2 separate regions of the Homo sapiens genome follow, and region 1 is linked to region 2. The links come from fine-mapping of genetic effects on gene expression. A gene starts in region 2. The other region holds a variant in brackets. All regions are shown on one strand. Distances are from middle to middle. Region 1 overlaps RASAL2 (RAS protein activator like 2). Region 2 holds the start of C1orf220 (chromosome 1 putative open reading frame 220).

Region 1 (8,756 bases), 440 kb before region 2:
GAAACGGGAGTGGCAAAGCCAGCCTCACTGTCTGTGCTTTCTGGTAAACAATGAGAACATTAAAATTAAATACTTTACCATGAATGGATGGGGAGTGTAGGACACTCTGGGAGAAATTTAAGATCCCAATCTCTAGGATTGCCTGCGGTGGAGCTCTGCACTCATCAGTATGACAGGTCTGCAAGTATGTGCTCAGATATGCTCTTGGAGAGTTAGAAGGGAAATATAATCAGCACAAGAAAGGGATCAACAAGAAATCTTGTACTTTTAAATTTTAATATTATCAGAAGGAATTAGGTAAAATATTCTGTTAAGAAAATGAATAGCATCAACATTATTACCATTAAGCTTGTATACAGCTCATTGTTTATTGATAACAACATAGGGACCTGCTGGAAAATTTCAAAGGGCTAGTACTATTTAAGCAAACAGAAGAAAAAGGGAATTAATCATACTTCATTAAGTACCTTATAATTCCAGAAATGTGGCAGTGGGAATTCGGTAAGAATTAATAGAAGTTCATATTCAAGAAGTGAATATGAGCTGATGAGACAGAAGTCATATCTGGTTGTATTATATGATACTGCTTACGCCTCACCAATTAAGACACAGGATGAGATTTTTAAAAGTTACGTTTCTAGAGGTTATGTCTCTAAATTTATTTAAAATGTTGCAACTAGTATGGCTAGAAGAAAATCAGTGAGTGTGTATAAAATACATCCCCAAACATGTTCATGTTCCTTAAATGTCTTAATTTCCTCAGGTACTGTTAATTGAATCTTTACACCTGAGTAGTCATATTTTAGAAATTTTTGGAATCTTAAGCTTGAGTTCAATACTTAGGATGTGGCATAGGCTTGTTGATGTATTAGTTTCCAATGATTTCCAAATACATTAAAACACATTAAGAATAGACAGTTTTTCATTGAAATCAGAGAGAACTTCTAAGAATGCCTAGGCATGTACTGTTTAAGTGACTTTAAATAGCCCCCTTTTTTCTTCTTTTGAGAGAAAATTTGTATGTCTTATTTAAATTGTGTGCTCTATTAATGTAGGTGATAGTTTCATTTATAACATCTTAGTATTGTTCTACCCTCTATCATGTTGGTTCACTGCTATTTGATTTTCAAACAGTGAAAATATTTTTAAGGAATAGAATTATACATCCACAATCTCTTTTCCAAAACCATTTGGACTAGACAGTTATGTTAATATTTCTGCAGTTAAACAAGTGAATAGGCCGGGCGTGGTGGCTCACGCCTGTAATCCCAGCACTTTGGGAGGCCGAGGCAGGTGGATCACTTGAGGTCAGGAGTTCAAGACCAGCCTGGCCAACATGGTGAAACCCCGTTTCTACTAAAGTACAAAGAAATTAGCCGGGTGTGGTGGCATGCACCTGTAATCCCAGCTACTTGGGAGGCTGAGGCAGGAGAATCGCTTGAACCAGGGAGGGGGAGATTGCAGTGAGCTGTGATTCCACCGTTGCACTGCAGCCTGGGTGACAGAGTGAGACTATCTCAAAAAAAAAACAAAATCATACCAAGTGGTATAAAGACTATAAATAGCCTTATGTCAGTGCAGGTCAGACTTTACTGCCAGAAAAGTTGCATACAGTCTTTTGCTTTTCAGAGCTTTTTTGATTTAGGAATTGCAGATATGGAATTGAGGATCTGTACAAATCTTCAGACATAAATAATACAAAGTTCTAGAACACCCCTCTTTAAGAATAGTTTGTGTGGATATCCTTTATCTTTTTCAGATAATAACATTTACTGAACACATTTTTAAAAATGGGCCGGGCGCGGTGGCTTATGCCCATAATTCCAGCACTTTAGGAGGCCAAGGTGGGCGGATCACCTGAGGTAAGGAGTTTGAGACCAGCCTGGCCAACATGGTGAAACCTTGTCTCTACTATAAATACAAAAAAAAAAAAAAATTAGCAGGGCATGGTGGCACATCTGTAATCCCAGCTACTCGGGATGCTGAGGCACGAGAATCGCTTGAGCCCAGGAGGGAGAGGTTGCAGCTAGCTGAGATCGTGCCACTGCACTCCAGCCTGGGCAACAGAGCGAGACTCAGTCTCAAATAAAAAAAAAAAAAAAAAGTTGTACAGTTGTGTTTCCTACTATAGTGAGTGAAATTTCTGTGGTTTGCTAAGAAAAAGAAAAGAGATTCACATGACATAGTAGGCTTTACCAAGATTATTAAGGAAATGGTGGCAAGGTAGTGGTTTCGGATCCTTTGTTTCATTAGAAGGAAGGATGAGGTAAGTTGAAATAGAGGGTTTATGTAATTGTTCTTTGCAGTTGCTTTCTTCAGTAGCACAAAGTGATTTGATCACCTTTTAAGTAGGTGAACCACAAAAAAGCATTCAACTAATGACAGTTAATTCAGAAAAACTTCAGCTGTTTGCTCCCTTGTCCCTCCCTATTGGAAAAACTTTTAACTAACTAGAGAGTTGTTTGGTCTTGTTAACCAGGAGGAGGAGTTTGAAGTGTGCTAAGGGCACTGCTAAAATTGCTTCACCCTATCTTGGTAGAGGGATAATTGCTGTCTGATGTTTGTAAAAACACCTTTCTTCCCAAAGGCTGTCAAGTACTTCTTAAGGCTAGCATGTAGAAAACCCTTTTGCAAATTTCATGTAGTTTATTTTATAGTGAGAGGGCAGCCCATCAAGAAGTAATGTGGTTCACAAGTAGAAGGGAAAAGAGAAGTCTTGAGGCCCAGTGCAGTGGTGTTAGTGAGTATACAGTAAACAAAAGAAATAAAAATTGAACCCTTAAAGGCATAAAAACATTTCATTTGCTAGACTATGATACAGAAGTTATCACTTTCCTAATCTCTACAGCTGGGTTCAGATATGAGCTGTCTGAATTTTACCTTCCCTTACCAGGTGTTAGTAACATCAATTAATTGTCTTTGTTGGCTTTGCTCATAAGGGTTCAGTTTAGATCCTGATTGTATTTTTACCCCTCCATAAATTATCTTCAACATTGCTCGAGTTCCATTCACATTGTGTCACTTGTAGCAGACTTTCTAAAAGTACCCCTTACCTCCATCCCTGAGTCTAAGGGATTGGTAATACTTATAGATATTGATTGAGAGAGTGAAAATTTAGTGAGGGGAAAACATTCAACATAGATAAGATAACAAAATTCGGAAGAGTAGTCTGAAAAGTTAAAATGAAACCTTAAAGTCAATAGTTTTTGATATTTTTCAAAGCAATCCTTTAGGTTTTCTCATTGAAGAAACTGGCTCAGGAAGTTTAGCTTATTCCCAAAATTGGAGACAGACTCCACAGTTTGTCAGGATTGGAACTCTTAACCTCAGATTCCTTAGCCTCCTGATTTAGCTTCTAGATCTTGCTGCCTTCCCTTAGGGAGATGGCCTCTCAAAGCTGAAGGTCAGGAAAACTCGACAGTGAGAAATACCAGATTGTTAGTTTCACAGTCTTTTAAGGGAAATGCTGGAAATACCATTACCTAGGTAACAGAAAACAAAAATGGACAAAACATCCATAAAGTAGGAGGATGAAAATAATTTCATAGTAATCCTTAAGAGATAGACCAGAGGACAGATGAGATTTTTTTTTTC[A/G]TATTTTTCCTAAGCTTATTATGCATACTTTTTTTGGTGCTGTGATTGGAAGTGATGTCTGAAGGAAATTTGAATTTCATATATGATGCTTAGAACCCTGAATAATACCTAATAACTTTGTACCTTCCACTTGAATTTCTAACCTCTGATTCCTGTCATTAAAAATTAATACCCTTTTTCTGATTATGAATATAATTTGTGCTTAACATAAAGAATTAGAATTTTAGGAAAAGCCAAAATTAAAATCATTTGTAATTCTACCTCTTAGAGATAACTATCATTTTTTTTTAAATATTATATTTTAGAGACGGGGTCTCATTCTGTTGCCAAGGTTGGAGTGCAGTGGCGCAATCATAGCTCATGCCCAGGTTGGAGTGCAGTGGCGCAATCATAGCTTACATATTATCCATTGCCTGGGTTCAGGGGATCCTTCCACCTCAGCCTCCCGAATAACTGGGACTACAGGAGTGTGCTACCACACCTGGCTGAGATAATTATTCTTTTAATATTTTATTGTGTTTTATTCCAGTCTTTTTTGTGTACAGATTTTTTTGTATTAATACATATTTGGTATCAAACTGCATATATTTTACATTCTACTTTTTTTCTCTTAAGTGTATTTTCTCATGTTATTGAAAACATTAACACATTTTTTTAAATATGTTATTTATTTTAAAAAATAGGTAATATATTCCTTTGTTCCAAAATTCAGAGTATAAAAAGATATTCCATGAGCTCTCTCTTACTCTTCCTCCCTGCCTCTACAACTTGCCATCTGGCAGGCATGGTCCCTCTTCCCAATCAATAAATACTTGAAATTGTTATGTATCTTTCCATACCTATTCCACGTGCATAGAAGCAAATGTAGAGATAGATAGATATGTAAAAATCCTGCCATAAGTGGGATCCAAGAAATCTAGTTTACAAAAAATTCAGGGTTATATTTCTGTGAGGTTAGTGAAATGACCAGAACAAACCTGCAAATGAAGTTGGCCATGAGTTCTGGGGGTCTGGAGCCGGTAAATTGCTTTATATCTGAAATGATATCATAGGTTTTTACTGTATATATGCATTTTTCTCTATTTTTACACGTATGATAACCCATTAGAACTGATTTTTATCTGCACTTTGAGATTGCTTCTTCTTTCTTCCCCCCGCCCCTCACTTATTAATGTATCTCAGATATATTTTCCTTTCATTTTGTAAAGAGGTACCTCATTCTTTTTATGGCTGCATAATGCCTGAATTAATCATAACTCATTTAATTATTCCCCAAGTTTTGCTAGTTCAAGTGATTTTGCAGTGAATGATCTTGAGTATAAGCCATTTTGCTTGTGTATGAGCATATCTGTAAGAAAAATACATAGAATTGCTAGGTCAAAGGTACGTGTATTTGTAATTTTGAAAGATATTGCCAAATTGCCCTACCTGTCTGTACTTCGCCCGCAATATATGAGAGTGCCTGTCTCCCCACACATAATGAATTATCACGAAATTTTGGATCAGACAATCTGAAAGGTAAAAATGGTGTCTTAATTTAATTTTTTTTAATATCTTTTACATTAAGTGTGATTGAACATCTTTTCATTTTTAAGAGTCATTTAAATATAACCTTTTCTGTGAACTGTACATACCTTTTGCCCATTTTTATTGGGTTCTTGGATCTTTTTCTTAGTGATTTGTAGGAACTATTAGTATATTAAGCAAAGCATACTAAGGAACTCTTAGTATTTAAGTAAAGAACCCTTTATCTGCAACAGTTGCCAGTATTTTCATTTTTCTTATGGTATTCCCCCCACCCTTATGAAGAAATGATTCTTACACAATTGAATGTATCGGATTTTTCTTTTATGGCTTTTTGGTTTTATGTCAGAATGTATTTTATGTTAGAATGGGCTTTCCTGGGAGTTCTCTGGACCTTTATTTTGTAACCTCAGAATAGGAAAGCCCATTCTTTTTTTTTCCCCCTCTACATACACTAAGTACCTAAATACCCTTGGGGGACAAAAAAAAGAGTGGGCTTTCCTGTTCTGAGGTTATGAAATAATTCTCTCTTGGTTTATCTAGTACTTCGTTGGTTTTATTTTTTACATTCAAATCTTTAATCCAGTCTGGTATTAAATATGAGATATGGATCCAATTTCATTTTTTGAAAGATGGCTTTCCAGTTGTCCTACCATCATTTGTTGAAGAAACCAGCTTTTTCGCACTGATTTAAGAAGACTTCTTTATTCTATACAAGATTGCCATTTATATTTTGGGTTATTTCAAGATTTTCTATTCTGTTCTATTGGTCTGTTTATATTCATGTGCCAGTATCACACAGCTTTATTGTTGAGACTTTATAATATGAAAATACAATTTTTAATGACTAACATTATTTAACCATTATTCTATTTTAGATGTTAACATTTTTCAAAAAGTTTAACACTTTACTGATTTGTCTTTGTGCACAAATCTTTGATCCAAACTTCTGAATGTTTTCTTATGCTGAATTCCTAGAAGAGTATGAAATGTTTTTAAAGGCCTGAGATTTAGTGCGAAATTGGTGAAACCTTCCTGGAAAGTAATTCCTGCCTCTAGTATGTGAAATATGGCTCATAATTTTAAGTTCTACTGCTGTGTTGCTACTTTCAATGTATTAAAATCTTTTTACATAAATTTTATATAATACCTTAAACGTTACTTAGCACATATTAAATGCCTTGAGTCTTTATGCCTTTAAGACTGTCCTTCAAAAACTTAGTTGTTGTTTAAATGGTACTCCTTTTTATTAATGGCATATTTCCAAGTGAATGAGGGAAGGGCGGGAGTATAGACTCAAAGCAATTGGTCTGCTAAAGGTCAAATCCATGACCGTGACCTTACTTGTATTATGTCAGACCCTCCAACTGAAATAACTTGATGCAGACATATGTTTTAGGTATTCTAAGAAGCACACAGTTGGTAACTTTTATCTCAGCTAGAAGGAGTTGACATTCATGAAAGTTATTTTGAACATGATTTGAATATAGTTTCATTTAGTTTTACCTGGATGAGTGATTGAGTTGTATGTCTTATATAATACTGTGTTAATGACCCAGTTTTATAGCATGGGATTAATTTAGGTATGTTCTGAGGAAAGTTTTTCATAATGTTAAACAAAGCCAAATCCAAGTAATGGCAACAAGAACTAATATTAATGATTAAAGTAATTTAAAATCTTTTCTTCAGAAAAAATAATGGCAGGAATAGGAATAAGACTATGGAAAAAATCATATTTTATATAGACCGTTAACAAAGTTAACCAAATTTTCTTTTACCATTTAGCTGTTTAGCATGTAATACATAAGCATAAGCTTGTCTTGCTAGGCCAGAAAGGAGCAAACTTAGAAAAAGAACAAACTGTTTTTAACTTTTAACAATGACTTAAAGTAGTTTGAAAGTGAAATGAAAAAATAATCCCTTATCCAGTTAATACTCTGGAGGTTTGTAGGAAAATTTGTTTAATTCGGGCAGGATAGAATATGCAAATATCTTGCTCCATAAATAAGTACTAAATAATGAAGACATATGAAGGATATGATACAGTGGGAAAGTATGGCAGTATTTTTGTCAGTTTTTGAAGTGTATGAAATTACTAGACACATTCTCTTTTTGTTTTTTGGGGTTCTTTTTTTTTTTTTTGAGACGGAGTCTTGTTCTGTCACTCAGGCTGGAGTGCTGTGGCTCTATCTTGGCTCACTGTAGCCTGGACCTCCCAGGCTCAAGGGATCCTCCCACCAAGTAGGTGCTACTTCAGGTGTGCACCACTGCGCCCAGCTAGTTTTTTGTTTACTTTTTGTAGAGACGAGGTCTCACTGTGTTGCCCAGGCTGGTTTTGAACTTCTAAGCTCAAGCAATCCTCTTGCCCCAGCCTTCCAAAGTGCTGTGATTATAGGCATGAGCTGCTGTACCCAGCCACGTTTTCTTTTTGAACTCAGTAAAAATCAATTGTAGTTTTAAAGCATTTTACTAATTTAGTTCATGGAAACATGAAATCGCTGTAGATGACAACATTATTGTTAGGAGTTAATCTATAACTCTGTTGCTCTGAGGGATACACTGACAAGGTGAAGATTATTCTTGTTTTGTTTTTCTGTTCTTGTAATGAAATTTTTTTAATGTCATATTTTATGTAATAATTTTCCAAAAAGGATAGCATGTACACTATCTCCAGGGTAGTGACTGACAGCATAAAAAATCTCTTTGCCTGGCTATAATCTATATTTGCATGTTCCAGTTTGTGCTGAAGTATAGCATATCCACAATTCCTAGATTTCCCTCCATGGTTCCCTTAGGCTTGACTGTGTACAACTTTATGTGTATTTGTAAATTTCAAGACTGCCCTTGAGTGAGGAAACCCAAGGCCTTTCTGTTGCATGTTCCTATTTTGAAATGGCTGCTTTTTGTCCAAGTGGTTGCTGATTACTCTGTATCAACGTATGGACCTTGAATAAGATGGTCAGTACAGTAGCTACCAAGTAACGAAAGATATGTTGTAATGTCTAAAACAATGACTTTGCTTTTAATGTTGTCTAGTTTTATAAAGACTTCATGGTTTTCCTTTTTATAGAAAATAAAATTTATATTCCTGTTTTTGAATCTAGCTTGATAACATGATTAAGAAAAAATGGTATCATATGGTGATTTCTATTGAAATAGAAAGATACCCCAGATACAGTCGATTTCTTCCTGTTTTGTTCAGGTCAGAAAGTCTTCAGTCATTCTTTTGCAAGTTCAACCAAAATAAGCTTAAGAGAACATTTTCAGTTATTTGCATTTTAGGTTGTAGTTTTGGTCTATACTGAGATTGTCATGCCAGAGTGTCACCTTGAGAGAGGCTTGACTTTGTAATATCTATTAGCTGATCATCTTTCTTTTCCTGTAGCTTAACTAGCATAATAAATTTCCTCATATATATCCAGTAATATTATTCTGTTTACCTGTGAGCATATTGTATGAAATTATATGTTTTTACAGAGTTGCTTTTTCCCTACAATCTTGAAAAACCTTGCATTTTTTTCTGTCAACAAACTTATTAAACATGATAAGTCATTTCTCCATTTTATCAGGGAAATAATTGTGAAAAAGTTAGTGACTCCTAACGATTCTTGGTGATGTGAGATGATTACTATTTGACT
Region 2 (8,756 bases):
GGGGAGATGCAGGGGCTATGGACTCAGGACTGATTCTTGAAGGAGGTGGGGCTAGGATGAGGTGAGAAGGATGAGCATATTAATTTGGTGGTGAGAAGAGGTGGGACAGGGTGGCTGAGTGTGTGGGGACCAGAGAAGAGGCAGGAGTGAGTGCGTGCTGAGAACACTCGTGGGTGGGGTGATACCCCCAAATACTTAACCATGGGCCCTGACCCACCAGAATCTGTGCCAGGTAGGACCCTTAGCTGCTAGGTTGTGGGGACACCTGGCCAGTCCTGGGAAAGGACCAGGAGAATGATGGGCAGGTGGCCACTGGGTCGGAGGTGGGGGCAGCTCAGGGCAGCAGCTGTTTACCAACCAGTATGGAAGTGGTTCAATATTTTATTAACTATAAAGGACCCTAAAGAGTGTGCAGTAACAGAATCCTCACCATGCCCGTGGGATGGGGCAGCGACATGGCCGCAACACCCCACCATGAGATGTGAGCTCAGCACTCAGACACTCTGAGGGGATGAGCTGTGTACTTGTCTGCAGGAGGACACAGTCATGAGTCAGAAGCTGCTGTTTTCCTTCCTTGGAAAGGAAGGTACGTTCCAGCATAGTGCAGGGGGCCCCTCAGGCCACCCCAGGCTTAGGGGAAGCTGAGCTGCCTCTATCCTTGCCCAGCCATTCCCAGCTTCCCCCTCTGCAGCCCTGGCCCCACCTGGGCGTGGCTCCCACAGCGGTGTGGGATAGAGAGGCTCTCAGGCTCCCCTGTGAGTCTGACTCCAATTCCTGTTGGTCTTGTAAAGTCAGAAGAAATCCCAGTGATGACAAGAGTATAAAACAAGACTTGTCAAACTTCATTTTGAGCCAGGAAAATCACAGGATTGTCATCGGGACAGGGGTTGTTGTTGTGACCTCTGTAGTTGGTCTGGCTGCTGCATAGTCGCTCTCGCTGAAAGCCACAAGACTTTGCTGGAAGGAAAGCCTTCCTCCCTCGATATGGAGGGCTCCGAGCTTCACAGGCAACCGCAAGGATCTGGCATGTGTCACACAGCAATGCTTCGACAGGCCAGGAATCCCACCTTCAGGGACCCCCAACAGAAGAAGAATCCCAAGTGCTGACACTGTAGAGCAGACGTCAGCTGCAAGCTCAGCACAGCCACTGCAGTGAGAGGTCTTGGTGGAAGCGACAGAGCTGACCTGGCTGACTCGTGCAGGCAATGGACATGGGGAAATATGTGCAGAACTTATCAGTCGGAAGGCTGGAGAACCGCATGGGGAAAATGGGCAGGTATCAAGGCGGCTGGCAGCAGGAGATGCAGGCGAGGCCAAGCTGTGGCCAGGCTGTGGTGAGGATACCGTGGCCGGGACTGCTGCCACAGGACACAGGATGCTACTCTCACAGATGGTCTCCTGGCCTAGCTGCCATGGCCAAAAATAAGTTCTCTTCTGTTCCTGCACCCTAGCCTTCAAAGCCCCACTGGGCTGGGCAGGATAGGAAGGCTGTGACCTCTGCAGGGGTGGGGGACAAGAGGGACACCTGGTTCCTTCCATTCCTTCCATTTCCAGAGGGGCTGATGGATTCCTGCCAAGAGTCACCGGGGAATCCTCCCAAATAGAATGGATGCTGGAAGCTGGACCGCCAAAACAAACAGAACAATAGCAACAAATGCCCATTATATATTGGGGAAGCAATTGTGTCGATGGAAACAATAGAACGAGCTAGTTTTGTCTTTAAACCTAGGAAATAAGGCCAGGCATGGTGGCTCATGCCTGTAATCCCAGCACTATAGGGGGCTGAGGAGGGTGGATCACTTGAGGTCAGGAGTTCGAGACCAGGCTGGCCAACATGGTGAAACCCGGTCTCCACTAAAAATACAAAAATTAGCCAGGTGTGGTGGTGCACACCTGTAATCCCAGCTACTCAGAAGGCTGAGGCAGGAGAATCGCTTGAACCCGGGAGGCAGAGGTTGCAGTGAGTTGAGATCACGCCATTGCATTCCAGCCTGGGCGACAGAGAAAGAGTCCATCTCAAAACGAAAACAAAAACAAAAAACACCAAAAAAACAAATAAATCTAGGAAATAGATGAATAACATCACCTCCCAGGTGAATAAGAGAGCAAAAGACTCTGTGGGTTCATCCTCTCATTCCTCAGGGGAACCATTTCCAAATGAGACATGTACACAGGCAATACCTGCAGGGCGAGCTGCATTCTACATAGACATTCAAAACCGTCTCAATTCAAAACCGTCTCGATTCAGAGGAGTGCAGCTCCTATCTCATGCAGACAGAGAGGGTGGGGTGACTGCATCAGAGGTCTGGTCAGGACTTGAGAGATACAGTGAAATTTGATTGTGGCTGGTGGATGAAGTAAGGTTTGATAGAAATAGAATGGCCCATGCATGTCCTCTGGGGACCCACGGACACCCTGAAATTGTATGCAAAATGTTGCGTGTGTGTTCATGTACTTTTTCTGGAACAAGGTGACAGCCTTTATTGAATCCTCAAACAAAAACAAGCACTGCTCTAGAATAATATTTCCTAAACACACTCATCACCCGACACCCCAAGGCTTGACAGGATGCTCTAAAGTATCCATTTCTGTCCTCATCCGTTCACATGCAGCATTTAATCCCACTTCCCAGCCTTCTGCCCTCTTCTCCTGTCTCCTCTCCATGCTTAACACGCCAGCCCCAGATGCTCCTCCTTGCCACCCAGGGCCTGAGTCATACATCCATCTGCTGAGCTAAATATCTCTACTTGGATGTTTAAAAGGCACCTCAGCCTGAATTCATTCCAACTAGAACTCTTGATTCACACCCCCACGGAAAAACCCCATTCCTCCCCCGGGCTCATCTAGCTCAGTTCACGGCATTTCTCTTTCTGTAAAGCCGGGGAAGTGTGCAGTGGTGAAGTGCTGGGTCCAAATTCCAGCTTTTCCATTTGCTAATGGTGGGACTTTATGCAAACTGATTCAACTCTCTGGGCCTCGATTGCCTCTTCTGTAAAATGTGGGAAGAACTAATTCCTAATTCATAGGAGTGTTATGAAATCTAGACAGGTTAAACTATGTGAAGGGTTTAGAGGAGCGCCTGGCTAACCGTATTAGCCACTGTCATTCTTTTTCTTCCAGTTGCTCAGGACAAATCCTAAGAATGATGCTTATTTCTCTCTTTCCCTCATGCACCACACCCAAGCTCATCAGCAATTCCTGTCCATTCCACCTTCAGATACAGATCACAAATCTGACCTCCTCTCCCCATCTCTGTTGCTACCCTACTCGCCTGGGCCGCATGGTCACTTGTGGTGGTCTCCTAACTGCTCCCCTTGTGTCTACCATGGCCATCATCCCCACACCAGCTCTCCAGGTGGCAGCCAGAGTGATCTTACAAAACCGTAGGTCAGGTCATTGCCCCCTGTCAGACTCAAGCCCATCACAGCCCTTGCTATGCTGACAGGCCCATCCCACCCCAGCCCGCTCCCCCCACCACCTGCCCCCCTCCGCCACCTCACCTGTGCCTTCTGCACGCCTCTCCCACCACTCCCCCTCCCTCCCTTTACTCTGGCCACTCTGAATGTCACTGGTCCTCCTTGAGCCCTCCTGAGCCCTCTGCCCAGAGTAATGCCAGAGTGGAGGCCACAGCTGAAGGCAGAGGCTGTTGGCCTGGGGTGGAGAGGGGAGATTCCTCTGGGTGGAAGGTGACATTGGGCAGCCTTGGATGAAGTGAATACCTGGTGTGGGGAAGCAAAAATAAATAGAGAAACAAACGGATTAATTTTGCTTCTTTCCAGGGACTTGATTTTCTACAAGTGCTGCTCCAAGAGGCTTCTACACCCCCGCAGGGAGGCAAGCACCGTTTTGAGGTGGCCGGGCTGGCGAGGAGGTGCAGACCCCAGCCAGCTGGAGGGGCTCTGCCCTGATGGCGTTCCCACTCCCACCTCATTCGCAGGGCGCCGGGGAGGGCTGCAGGTGTTCTATTCCCACCCGGCTTGCAGCGCAAGGAGGGGAATCGCCTGACACCTTCCCCTTCTCCTCTGCCCCGCTTCCTTTCTCTGCTCCCACAGGTGGAAGTCACCAGCGGAAACAACCCTTCACTGTATGGAGGGCTGGGAGAGAGGGGCCAAGAGGGCCCCGGGAGAGCCACTGGGCGGCAGGCAAGGGGCGGGGCAGTCTCCCTTCCGGCTTCCGGGACCGAAGGGTGAAGGGCAAGGGGAGCTCAGGGAATGAACGAGTGCTCCCGACTAATGTTTAACCCACGACTCCGAGACTCCGACTGGTCACAGTCCTGCAGACCTCCAGGTCCTGCACAGGCGACGCAGCGCTCCACTGGCCCGGAATGCGCACCCCGGGGGAAATGGAAAGTGCCATTGAAATGTCAGATGTCACCGTCTTCATCAGCACTCTTGGAATTTTGGCCAAAGTGGCTTCTTCTTTTGCTGAGACTTGACTCACTCCCGGCAGAGGGATGATAGCGGCCTTGCCCCGAGCGTTTATCCGGCTGCAGGCGTCATTCTTGGTCGCCTGTGTGTCCAGAGCCCCAGCGCAGGAAGGGAGCGCAATTCCCACCGCGCCCGCTGGGTGGCGCTAGCGCCGCACCGTGTCCCGGGATGAGGGGAAACCGCGCTGCCCAGTCAGTACCCCGACGCCCCCGCGCCCCCGCCGGGCCCCGCGCGCTGCAGCCACCGCCTCTTCTCGGCTTCCTCTTGCTTTACAGTAACTCTCCTCCTGGGGAAAAGGCTTTTCACGGAGCAGGCTCGGAGCCTACGGGGCTGGCCTCGGACTGGATGGGGGTAAGGACGGGTGGCGGCGCTCGCGCCGAGCGAACGGAGGGCTCAGGCGGCCGGTGATCAGGGACGGGCTGCGGCCGCCGTCTGGGGTGAGAGGCCCACCCAGAGCTCTGGGCCAGGGCTCGCGGCTCTCGTGCAGATGCTGGGCCGGGAGGTGTGGGGAGGGGGCTTCCCAGGCGGGGCAACCGGAGGGGAATGGGGTGTGCAGGAGGGAGGGGAGGCGTGGAGCGCCCGGCCTGCAGGCACTGGGCGGCGCTCTCCAGCCTCCTCTTCTCCCGCCGGGTGCCTGGTGGCTTGGCCTCCCCTCCAGAGCTTCGCATATCCTGGCGGGAGCCGGCGCTCTCTCTCCATACTTAGGACTTGACCCTTATTCCACACCCGGGCAGGGAATCATTTGCCCAATCCGAATTTGATTTTCTGCTTGTGAGAGGAGAAACTGGTGACAGTGTCGCATGGACACTGTCGGGGAAGCCGAGACGTAGACCTGGAAGCCTGTACCAGAGGCCTTGTGGACAGCTTTGGAGCATGCATCTTAAGGCACACCACCGGTTTCTGCTGCTTTGGCACAGCCACGCAGCACCTAGGATGCTTCTCTGCACGCAGCAGAGGCCTAATCCGTGCACCCTCTGACGGTGTTGGAGGGAGCTGGGGAGCAACATCAGATTAATAGCCCCTGGGCTATTTGTATGACGTGCAGATTTCACCCTCTCATTCTTAAAGGGTGAAAGGCTGCAATTCAGAAAGGCGAAGATGGGGCCCAGGAATCTGCAATCTGCGTGGGGTTTTTTTTTTTTTTATGAAGTCTTGTTCTGTCGCTCAGGTTGGGGTGCAGTGGCGCGATCTGTGCTCACCGCAACCTGTCTTCCAGGTTCAAGCGATTATCCTGCCTCAGCCTTCTGAGTAGCTGGGACTACAGGTGCATGACACCACACCTGGCTAATTTTTGTATTTTTAGTAGAGATGGGGTTTCACCATGTTCGCCAGGCTGGTCTTGAACTCCTGACCTCAAGTGATACGCCCACCTTGGCCTCCCAACGTGCTGGGATTACAGGCATGAGCCACCGCGCCTGGCCAGAGTTTGCATTTTGTTGTTGTCGTTTGTTTGTTTGAGACGGAGTCTCGCTCTGTGGCCCAGGCTGGAGTGCAGTGGCGCCATCTCGACTCACTGCAACCTCTGCTTCCCAGGTTCAAGCGATTCTCCTGCCTCAATCTCCCAAGTAGCGGGGATTAACAGGCGTGCCACCACCATGCCTGGCTAAATTTTTTATTCTTAGTAGAGACAGGGTTTCTCACGTTGGGCAGGCTGGTCTCAAGCTCCTGATCTGCCCGCCTTGGCCTCCCAGAGTGCTGGGATTACAGGTGTGAGCCACCGCGCCTGGCCTGTTTTGTTTTCCTAAATCCAGAAGTTCTGATTCAAGCCTAAACCTGCCACTTCCATTCCCAATCCTCTGAGCTTCATGAGCTCCAGACACAGGGCTGTTAATCACAATTTCTTTAATTCTTTATATCTCTTGTGGAATTAGAGGAGTAGATGTTCTTTCTTTTTGGGAAAAACATTAGAAAATGCCTACATGTCTTTATTGAAAGAACTTAAAAACAATGTATTTCTCTAGGGTTTATTTTCCCTCACGGCTCTCAACCTTCTCAAAATATAAGGTTGGCGGATTAATTATACTGAAAGTCTTCAGTTGGATATTTTATTATAGTATTTTTAAAGTCGTGTTTTGTAATTGCCCTGACAATGTAAGGAATGATATTTGTGAGGGTGAGTCAACAACACCTTCCCTGTTGGTGTCTGCCCTCTAATAACCCCACGGGCTGGATCCCCAGCACCTGGAAGGAATCATCATGGAACGTTAATAAGGAGGAAGGCTGGTTCTGGCGCCTGGAACACTTCAGAGACAGAAAGCAGTGACTAGGCCAGACAGGCCCGTTGTTTTTGCGCTTTGAGAGAGAAGTGAGAAATGGAAAGTAGTCTCTTTATCTTCTCAGCAAATACAGCCTATGCTCAGAATTTCTCCGACTTCCCATCTCTGAGATGCCGGATGCCCAGTTCCACAGAATCATGGCAAGCGAGAAACTGTCGTTCATAAGAGTTCAAGAAAATGAATATTCTCTCAACTCTGTGAGGGCCAGTGGGTTCCAGGCGAGATGAGACAACTTGGTGAGCGTCGTAACTGAGCTCCCAATGCATTTAGAAGCCTCTGGATGGCCGGGGGGTGCATTCCAGCTGTGCTGGAAAAATTATATTTTGAAGTTAAATCTGGTAGTGTTTTTTCCAATATGAATAGGCCTCAGGAAAGAGATAATACATTTCCTTCTTTGTTCAGAGGGTGCTCAACTTGCTGGAGTCATCTCTGCTATGGCTTTATTTGCCAACAACAGAGAACTTGCTCTGCAGCAGCCCCAGGCTCTCTGGGGACCCCACAGGCTATGCAGATCCCCCACCCCAGAACCACAGAAGGAGACAGAGCAGAAGCACACCCCGTCTTCCAGGCCCAGGACAGCTGCTGAGCTCCAGGACACGGACTCTTGAAGGTTGATTTTGACTACTTACTAAGCTCCAGCTGAACCAGTTCCACTTCTTTAACCTTCCCATGATCCCTGTGAGGGGTCTGTGGTATTGCTATTTGCAAGTAAAGAAAGTGAGATTGAGGGAGGCTGAAAGACTTGGCCCCAAGTCACAATGCCCTGCTGAATGTGGTGCTGCCTCCTGGATATCCTGGGTGCTTCAACATCAACAGCTCTTGGCAAGTGAGTGGGCCACGAAGGATGGACGAGGGACATGGGGGAGCAAGCCCAGCTGCACGGTTCCAGCTCTTTCCGCCACATCACAGCTTCTGCAGTTGGGAAGACTGAACAGTGATCTTCAGTTTGTTCGTCAAAGGGCCAAGAAATCTGTGTCCTCACCTTCTCTGCTTCAATTCTGGTGCTGCTTAAGCCGATTATCATTTCATGCCCTAAACCAAAAAATAAACTCTACAAACATCAACATTACATAGGACAGGATCTGGCCCACAGGTAAGAAAAGCACCTACAAGAGAGCTGCATGGAGCTGTGGGTGCATTTCCTGTTACCACCAGGGCATCCCAGAATGCTGACAAAGAGAAAACTAAGACCTTCCCACTCTGATTTGTTACATGTCATAACACCAAGCAAGTGACAGAGGAGACAATTATGGGGCCCAGAGGAAGGTGCCTGTATCATGTAGACAAAATCCAAAGCAGCTTGTTTCAGACAAAACATTTTGCTTTGGAAACTTTTGAAACTTCCATGGCCGTTGAATATAGCAGAGATGATCTAAAAATTTTAGAAGCGGTTGAGGTACCCGTGGTAGGGGCAAGGCATGGGAGTGGTGATCCTTAAGGGGCTTGTCTTTAGTTTGAGGGCCACACACAGAGGAGGTGGGCAGAAAACTGAGGTCTCCCCAGAGCAGCTTTCCAGACAAAAAAAATAAAAAATGACCAAGAAAATACCTGATATAATTGACAATGCCATGAAATGAAAAGTTTATCATAAATTCTAATAAAAACTACAATGGGCTGGGCGCAGTGGCTCATCCCTGTAATGGCAGCAGTTTGGGAGGAGGAGGCCGGAGGATTGCTTGAGGCCAGGAGTTTGACAGCAGCCTGAGGAACAAAGTGAGACCCTATCTGTATTTTAAAAATATACTTTAAAAAATATTTTTAAAAAACAGCAGATGGATATCCCTACTGCATTTGAGACCTGGTTTCGGTTCGACCTCCTCTGGGGAAGCTCACAAGCAACACTAGAATCTCAGCTCTCTCTGTTCGCTGATGTCATCTGAGATTTTTCTTTTTTTTTTTTTTTTTTTGGCAATGGAGTCTCGCTGCGATGCCCAGGCTGGAGTCTAATGGTATGATCTCAGCTCACTACAACCTCCGCTTCCCTGGATCAAGCAATTCTCCTACCTCAGCCTCCTGAGTAGCTGGGACTACAGGCGCGTGCCACCATGCCCAG

What was found. PIP is the estimated chance that this variant, and not a neighbour inherited with it, causes the effect. A credible set is the group of variants that fine-mapping cannot tell apart.
Region 1: its variant is the best candidate, but not a certain one, in a credible set for the expression of C1orf220 in sun-exposed skin (GTEx, PIP 0.67).

What each region holds. Positions count from the first base shown.
Region 1 is chr1:178,098,441-178,107,196 of GRCh38, forward strand. The region is part of intron 1 of RASAL2 (RAS protein activator like 2); the gene reads left to right. Among named protein-coding and RNA genes, the nearest start is that of RASAL2, 8.7 kb to the left of the region's middle. The variant A/G (reference allele first, on the strand shown) is at 3,595.
Region 2 is chr1:178,538,108-178,546,863 of GRCh38, forward strand. It overlaps C1orf220 (chromosome 1 putative open reading frame 220), which reads left to right and starts at 4,689. Exons shown (of 3, transcript NR_033186.1): 1 at 4,689-4,778; 2 at 7,106-7,796. LOC124904460 (a long non-coding RNA gene) reads right to left here and starts at 4,538. Exons shown (of 2, transcript XR_007066748.1): 1 at 3,927-4,538; 2 at 2,456-3,719. RefSeq lists an enhancer at 4,384-4,443 and silencers at 4,494-4,823, 4,854-4,923.